2 linked regions of the Homo sapiens genome follow. The protein of the gene in region 1 interacts with the protein of each later gene in a pairwise test. Each region holds a gene or a part of one and is shown in the gene's direction. Other genes may lie near its edges.

The links. Proteins that work in one complex are often made in the same cells at the same time.
Region 2: the proteins of USP42 (region 1) and CPEB2 interact in a two-hybrid assay, tested with the Homo sapiens proteins (one large-scale study listed by BioGRID).

Annotation. Positions count from the first base shown.
Region 1 is NC_000007.14:6,158,846-6,163,135, forward strand, and holds the end of USP42 (ubiquitin carboxyl-terminal hydrolase 42), read left to right. Parts: intron 1-604; coding exon 605-612; 3' UTR 613-648; intron 649-1,709; coding exon of another isoform or gene 1,710-1,750; 3' UTR 1,751-2,719; downstream 2,720-4,290. UniProt on the Homo sapiens protein: Deubiquitinating enzyme which may play an important role during spermatogenesis.
Region 2 is NC_000004.12:15,047,481-15,051,846, forward strand, and holds part of CPEB2 (cytoplasmic polyadenylation element-binding protein 2), read left to right. Parts: intron 1-4,366. UniProt on the Homo sapiens protein: May play a role in translational regulation of stored mRNAs in transcriptionally inactive haploid spermatids. Binds to poly(U) RNA oligomers. Required for cell cycle progression, specifically for the transition from metaphase to anaphase.

The DNA of each region.
Region 1 (4,290 bases):
GGGAGACAGTGATGGCCCCCGAGGCAGCTGGTCCAGCGGGAGGGAGGTTGAACGTGATCTTGTTTGCCTCGTGTCTCGGGTGCTGTGGTCAGGCGTTGTCTGTGTGGTGGCCCTGTGTTTCCGTCCCCGTCCCACTGCACCGATGACAGGGTTTGCAGCTGGCGCTTCTGCTGCGAGCAGACTGAGGAGCCTTTCTTGTCCTTCTGAGAAGGCCGCTGCCCGGCCCCGCCTCACCCAGCGTCCTGTGGTCCTGCGGGTCCCCCTCTACCCTGGACTTCGGCCCCTTGTCTTTCTCTTTCAAACTCCTCCTCTGGCTCTGTTCCGCCCAGTTCAGTTCTTGGGCCTGATATCTGTTCTAACATCAGGCTGCGTGTGGGTTGGATGGAGCCCTCAGTCATCACGTAAACCCTTTGACATCAGTAAAACCCTGGGAGCAGCCGCTGAGCGCTGGGACATCCCTGCTCACCTCACTGGGGAGTGGCCTCAGGCGCTCACAGGGAACCGCAGTGACTCTGACCATAGCCACTTAACGCACACACACAGCAGAGGCCCTGGCGATTTTGCAACCATCATTAAAATCTCTTTCCTGACCTTTGCTTTCTAGGTGATTGAAAACTCAGCCTCAAAACAAAAAATTCACTAGTTATGGTAAGCTGTTTTCCTGTCTGTTTCCTCATTGTTTGTGGTGGCGCTGAGGGGACGCAGGCAGAGGAGTTTTAATTCTGCGGCTCTGCCTGGGGGCTGGGCTCATAGGAGTTGGCAGAGCCATGGAGAGGCCCCGGCAGGTTCCCAGCCAGCCCAGACCCAGGCCACGCGCTTGGGGACAGACCTAGACCCTCCACCTCATCACGTTTGCATTACTGGCTGGGGAAGACCCGCATCCTTCACGCAGGCAGAGTCGCCCTGTTCCCTTGTGCCTCACTTGGGAAAAGCCAACCCGGCTCACAGCGGCAGAGCCCACGGGCCTTTGATAAACATCTGGGAAGGGAGAGGCCCGGTCCCCAGCACAGGCACCTCACTCAGGAGAGCGGAGCCTTGCTCCCTCGTCCGTCCCGTCCCCTGTGCTGCTGTCTGCGCCCCGAGGTGGCACTGAGCTGGAGCCAGCACCCCCCCAGCAGCCACCGTACAAAACCATAGGAAGGTGGCCCAGGGCCGGGCGGCAGATCAGGACCTCGGAGCTGTGGGGCTTTGTTGGATCACTTCACACAGCGGTCCTGGGAGAGTCACTGGTTTTATACCTGACCCTTGTGGAGCTAGAGGGGACAGTGAACCATTTTTCCCTTGAAAGGAAACTTTGTCCAAATGTGTCTGTCACATGTAGTCAGCAAGAGGAATTTAAAATGAATTGCCAAGTGAAGAGTCTGTGGATTAATTGGCCGTTAATTAACAGGCTTTATCAATGTGTCCTCAAGGGAGAGGCCCAACCCTAATTAAGGAGCTAAACTTCCTGAGTGAGGGGCTGTGAGGATGGAGGTGGAGGAGGCATCTGGGGCGGGTGGTGGCCGGGCCCAGCAGATGGCGCCTCCCTGGCTGAGCTGCCCGCACCGCCAGTTCCCTCATTTCCACTCAGGAAGGCAGAGAAGGCAGAGTGATCTCCTCAAGGAAGAGCTTCCCCAGCCTTCGGGAGCAGCTGGCAGGGCGTCCGGGAATAAGCCCTACACGCCGCCGCCTGCCTCCAACTCACTAACCCTGCGCCTCTTGTCTTTCAGATTCAACGCGTTCAACAGAAGCCATCCCCAGCCCAGCTTAAATTATAAAGATAGACAATAACTCTGTTCCAATCTGCGTGGTGCTTCTTTAGTAAATACTGTACAGATTTTACCATGGAGAACTTTTTTTTTAGTTTTTACCTTTTCTTAATTACCCTTATTCCGAATGGACGAACACTTTCTACCACTGCTGACCATTGTAAAATACCGTGTATATAAATCCCATTGAAATAATGCCCTGGAATAGAACATCTCAAATGCTGCTTAATTACAGACTCAGGTCGATTACTTGTATTTCATGTAATGTTCCTCCAAGTTAGACATCTGGTGCAAGACCAACCGGGAGACCATGGAATTGTCAAAAGTACAAACTGACAGTGTGTATATTTAATTTAAAGACTTATTTAAAAACTCACAAGCTCTCACCTAGACTTTGGAGAGCAGTCTGTTTTCTGTAATGTCTGATACTAGAAACTAATTTGCTTATTTTAGTTGTATTCAAGATTTGAAGATGTATTTTATAGACAAGTTCTGTTTTTGAACTTTGTGGAACTGTTCCAATCAATCAATTTCCCAGTTATGATGAGTATTTACATTATGAATGTATAACCCAGACATGATTTGTAAAGCCGACAGTATGTTTCTATTACACAACACTTTTTGATACAGCGTCTCTTGTCTTCACTGATACTGGAGTCTCCGTTGTCTGCTTGGTCCCTTCGAGTTTCTAGTTACAGACACAATCATACTGTGATTTTATTTTTAATATGGATATGCTATCAAACTGTGATACACTTATAATTCACTGGTCCTGCATCAGGAGATGGAGTGGGGAAAACTGTATTTAATACAGTTTGTATCTGAATAATCTGTATGGTTTATACAGTTTGTGTTGTTCAGAGATGTTTAAAGTTTGATCTTTGTTTTTCTAAAGATTAAAAAAGCACTTGCCCCACTGTAAATATACAGCATGTAAAATTTCTATAGTATATAAATGGCAGCAAATCACACACTTGGCGTCTTTTTACTGTTGTTTTCCCCATTTGCTTCCAGACTCCTTCCTGTCATCATCTGAATTCACTTTCTTAAAACCTTCAAGTAAGTGCTCCTGCCGAAGTCGGCACCTTCGGCCAGGCCATCCCACCTCGGACGGGCAAAGGAAAATTGGAGGGGTGTTTGCTGGACCCAACAATATCTGTTTTAAAGAACCAAGTCTTAGGCTTGTTTTAACAATACATGTGATTTTTATTTAGTGAACACAGTATCTGCAAGAGCTCTGACAGCCATCCACCCTCCAATCTTACTTCACTTTACAACCAAGTATCAATAGAGGCTGTTCCTTCATGCGAGCTGTGGGAGTATATACATCATTGAATAACAGACACTCCAGAAATCAACAGATGTACATTATTTACATATTACTATATTTACCGCAAATAGAAATATTTTCTAAGAAAAAAAGTCAATTTGTGGTTTCTGGTCTACCACAGACCTAACTTCTCAGCAAAGCATATCTATGTAGATATCTGCGTTTGTAACTTTAAAAATAGGCATTGCTTTCTATGAAGCACTAAGTGCTGCTCCATCTATAAATAGCTCCTATTTTCAGTTTGGTACCACATTAAACTGCCCCAAAATGTTCTGTGACCCCAAAGACACAAAGTTGCTGCTTATCTGGGTCCAGGGTCAGTACAATTAAACTCAAATATGAACCAGGGCGGCCAGCAAGACAGGCTGGAAGGGCTGTGGCAGTCGCCGCCGCCTCCCCGCGGGGCTCCCCTCACTGCCTCCTGGCCTCTGTCTCTGGAAAAAAGTATCTTTGGCCAGAGTTGGGACTAACAATTCAAGCCCTGCGCTCAGACGTCAGGGTGGGGAGGAGGAGGACTGTGATTGTGACGCGGCCTGCCCAGGGTGAGGGACAAAAAACAGATGTGTCCTGTTTCAGGGCCGTCCTGGTAGCGGCTGGCCCTGCGCAGTCACTGACCCAGAGTTTTCTGGACCAGGCCTGCCTCAAGGATCAGCAGGCATGATGGTCGCACAGCCTTCATGCTAATACTGTCCTAACACAGCCTGGAGCTAGGCGATTTCCTTTGACCACAAAGTACCTGGAGTCTAACTCAGCACCACAGCCTCTGCATGGCTCCCAGGTGCCCACCACCTGGCGAAGCTCATTCACAGATGACAGCAAAGGGGGAGCTTGATCATCTGGCGACTCCTTCCTGCTGCTTCTCCCAACACCCAAAACAGAAAGCTCTGCATCCCCAGGTCACACCTGGGTTGGTCAGAAGAAGGAAACAGCTTGTCCGAGCACAACATGCTGACAGAGCTGGCTGTGGCCAGTCTTGGGTGCCGGGCCAGCCTGAGGGGTGGGCACCGCCGGAGCCGGCCGTCAGTGTGTGGTCTGGGTGGGGGTCCAGGCAGCATTTATTTTCATGGAAGACTGGAGGCCAGAGTTGCATATCTACCAGTCAGGCATTTCAAGAACGCTGACTTGCCTTTCTCAGAACTAAAACTTCCGATTTGAGGTATCAGTAACAAAGCCTAAGAACGTGGGAATGAAAGTCTGATGCAGGACAGGGGT
Region 2 (4,366 bases), on another chromosome or scaffold:
TTAAGTTTATTTGTCAGTATTTGGTGGGTTTGGATGAGGTATGGAAATGATATTTAAAATTTTTCCCAGTTTATTACTAGCATTTAGAAATAATTTGGTTTTTGTAAATTGAATTTGCATTTCTTCCCTAGATAAATACAATTATTTCTACTAGTTTGATTTCTTCGAATTTTACATGTACAATTATGTCTATACTAAGTAATTTTATTTTTCTTTGCCAGTGTTCATGACTTTAAATTATTTTTTTCATCTTCTTTGATTTGTTGTACCTCCAGTAGTACAATGCTGAGTAGAAATAGAGTGAACATCCTTCCAAACCTTCAAGAGAAACCATTTGATAATTTATTATTACAGACTTTCACTCTTTTTTTTTTAAATGCTCTTTATTGGATTGAAGAAATTCCCTCCTACTCCTAGTTTTCTGGGAGTTGTGGTTTTTTTTTTTTTAATTATGAATAGCTGTTGAGTTTTATCAGATGCATTTCCTACATTTATGGAAATAATTTTATGGTATTTCTATTTTTGTCTGTTTATGTAGTACAATTAACAGTAATTGGTTTTAAAATGATAAATCAATCTTACGTTCCTGGGGTGAACCCCACTTAATCATGATTTGTTTTCCATTTTTATCTATACTTCTGGATTCATTCTGCCAATATATTTTTTAGGATTTTTGCATTTGTGTTCATGAGGGATATTGGTATATAGTTTCCTTATGTTTTTGTCAGATTTTAGTATTGCACTTGTAAAAAAAAGTTGTGAAGTGCTTCCTCTTTCTTTATTCTCTGGAAGAGTTTGTATAAAATTGCCATTTTTTCTTCTTCAAAAGTCTAGTTCATTTGCCAGTAAAGCCATCTAGGCCTGGATTTTTCTCTGTCGGAAGATTTTTTTATTTTAAGTTATGACTTTCATTTTTTTTTAGCAGACAAAGAACTTTTCAGATTTTTTCTCCCTGTGCCATTTTTGAAAAGCTGCATTTTTCAAGGGATTTGTTTCCTCTAGTTGTTAAATTTATTACCATAAAGTGGCTAATAACATTCTTTTTAATCTTTTAATGTTTGTAAGTTCTGTGTTGATTGATGTCTCTTTTTTGTTACTTTATTTCCTTCATCGTACTTTCTTTGTATTTTATTTGCTGTTCTTTTTCTAGCTTTTTGTGGTAGAAACAAGATGATTTGTTTTAAGCATGTCTTGTTTTCTAATATGCTTTTAAAACTATGAATTTTCCTTTGAGCCTGGCTTTTGCTGCATTCCAGCAAAATGAATTTGTTGTGTTTCATTATCATTCAGTTTTATTCCTTTGAGGTGTAAGAACCTGAAAACATACGTATGGTATCCTTCTTAGAAAGCATGTTTAAAGTATACTACAGTGGTAGATATAACTTATTTAATGGTTCTCCTTTTATTGTCATATTAATTTGGAATATGATAAAAGGATAATTGGCAAGGTAAAAGGTCAGACTTTGTCAATGATATATATTCAGTTAACTCTTCTTTTAAATGAGTATTTAAATCTGTAGCTTTTATGGCTTCTTGAAAAAAAGCAGTCATTATTGTCCAACAGTGAAGATTCTTGTTAGTATGGCTAGTGTGCAAAATGTTCTTAAACTTTTCGTTACATTCTTTGTTTAGCTGAACTTCGTTAATAGATTATAGATGTTTTTAGTTATATGAATACTAAGTAATATTTTATTATAGTAAACAAAAAGTTTGAGTCACTTTTGGGTCACTTTTCTCTTTGGCATTGCTTATAGTGTGATTTGTCACCGCATTCTTTTTTTTTTAATATAGACCCTAAGTATTTGTGATCCATATTTTTTCTCAACTTAAATGTCTGTTAGAAAGACATTTGAATACTTACTGTATTTATGACACTGCTAAGTTTTTATTTGTGTTAGGGCATTTTAAAGTGAAAAACTTTCCAAAGTATTGTACATCTGAAATAAATATAGAATTTGGATTTGTGATTTTTTTCCTTAAAATCGTTTGTATGTATGCTGTTTATCTTATTCCTTTTAAAGTAGAGAATTATTCAATTAAAGTCTAACCTTTAAAAGTTTGACCAGTTATTCACAATTAATATTATTTTTAGTGGACCTTGATGTTCATTTTATTGAGTAAAAATAGTTTCATGTTGAAGAGTTTCCTTTCTATTGATGACAAAAAATACTGACATTTTGTTTTACATTGCTTCCTGTTTCTAATAACAGCGGTATTTGAAAAGTTAAGCAATATTCACAAAGTTACTCAGTGAACATGGGTATTTTTCAGAACATCATATTTAAACAGCATTTGAATCTTTAGAATAATTCATTTCCTATATCAAATATCATCTTTCTCTCTGTTGTTGTGTCTTATAAACTAAATTTTTATGTCAAACATCTAGGTAGCTAGCTCCCTCACTCTGACAGGCATGTGGTCCCTTCCTTCTTGTCCCCAACCCATTCTGTTCAGGCTGTCACATTTCTAATTGTCTTTGTTTGTATCACTTGCATCATGTGTCATATTGTTCAAGATGTTCTATGGCATGTGATTTAATATATAAACAAATACCCAACATAAAACGGTCCGGTCCGTGGCCTGTTTGTTTAATATATAGACAGATACCCAACATAAAACCGATACTGGTCCATGGTCTGTTAGGAACCAGGCCACACAGCAGGAGGTGAGTGGAGGGCAAGTGAGCATTGCTGCCTGCCTGAGCTCCACCTCCTGTCAGATCAGCAGTAGCATTAGATTCTCACAGGAGCGTGAACCCTATTGTGAACTGCATGTGTGAAGGATCTAGGTTGTGTGCTCCTTATGAGAATCTAATGCCTGATGATCTGAGGTGGAACATTTTCATCCCAAAATCATCCCCCTGCTGTGGAAAAATTGTTGTCCACAAAACTGGTCCCTGGTGCCGAAAAGGTTGGGGATCGCTGCTATAGATTATATGCATTGTCTCCTATCCAAAAAAATCCTTCAGTTAATACTGAAAGAAAAACAACTTGTCCATATTCTTACTGTTTTTCCTTCTCTAACATACTTCTCTTCATTTGATCTCTATACGTAATAAAACTCTAAATACATGCAATGTGACTCCTACCCAACTTTCCTGAAACAGCTACCTTCACAGATCATGTATGTCCTCAAAAACAACTGTTTATTAAAAGTAATTATCTTAATATCTCACATTGTTACTTAATTGCTCTTTCGTTCTTTTATTGGTTTTTTGGTGCTTCTATTACCATGATATTTTGGCTGCCCTCCCACTTTTCTTACCACTCCTTTCTCTAACTCCTTGAATGTTCTGCTTCTTCCTTGTAAGTTTCCCAAGGAACTGTCCTCATCATTTCTCGCTGGAGTGTTTATCATTGATGTTATAAAGGACCTTAAACTATAACCCATGGAGTTGACTCCAAATTATTTTCTCAGAAATATGACATTTCTTTTCTCCACTTCCTTTTCAGCTTCCTACTATACATTTGCTTCTGAACATCCTAACAGCATATAAAACTTTACATCTAAAGCTTAAATTATTTTCCTTTCTTATACCAGTTTCTGGTCTTAACTGTCCTTATATCAGTTAATGGTTTTATCATTTTCTAAAGTCTTCCTTAGATCTCTCCTTTTTCATTCTTTCTCCCTATTTTGTTTCCTATCTGCTTGTGACTGCCATCCATCCTTTGTGGATTTTTTGCACAGCTTCTGATCTGCTCATTTTCAACTACCTTATCCATATTGACTAAGTCTCCCTAATGCATAGAAAAAGTTATAATCTTGATTGAATCCCTGTATCTAGTTTATTATCTTCACCACCTACTAAATGTCTCGTTAGCCTGTCATTCAATGCTAAATACTCTAGCCTCAAAGGGCTTTTCTGGCTTTTACTCTCCTTGTTTCCAACATATTTCAGCCAACCTTGACTATTCCTTATTTCTCAAGTAAGTTCAATTTTTCCTACATTTTCTTATGTTTCTCCTTTCACTTGGAAAAAAAGGAAAATTTACTGAAAACCATGTTCCTGTAAATATTTCCACCTATAGATATTCTCCTCTTTCTAATGCCTCACTATGTACTGCTATTTTTCTCTTTTTATCCCAAATGCTATTTAATTTCACTTAGAGATTTAGGAAATCATCCTTTTATTTGACTCCTTTCCTCCAGAATATGTCCTCTGAGCACTTTGAAGCTTTCTTATGGATGTGTACCATGGTTACATATATAGATCTTATCTTTCTAAATGTACATTCCTTGACAGCCAGGGAGTATATCAGGGCATTTAAGTTTTGTGGAGGGATTACCCACAGAGTGGGGATTACTTCAGAGGATTGTGCAGGATGTGCCCTATATAAGGATTACCTCCTGAAATGTGGGCTCAAAT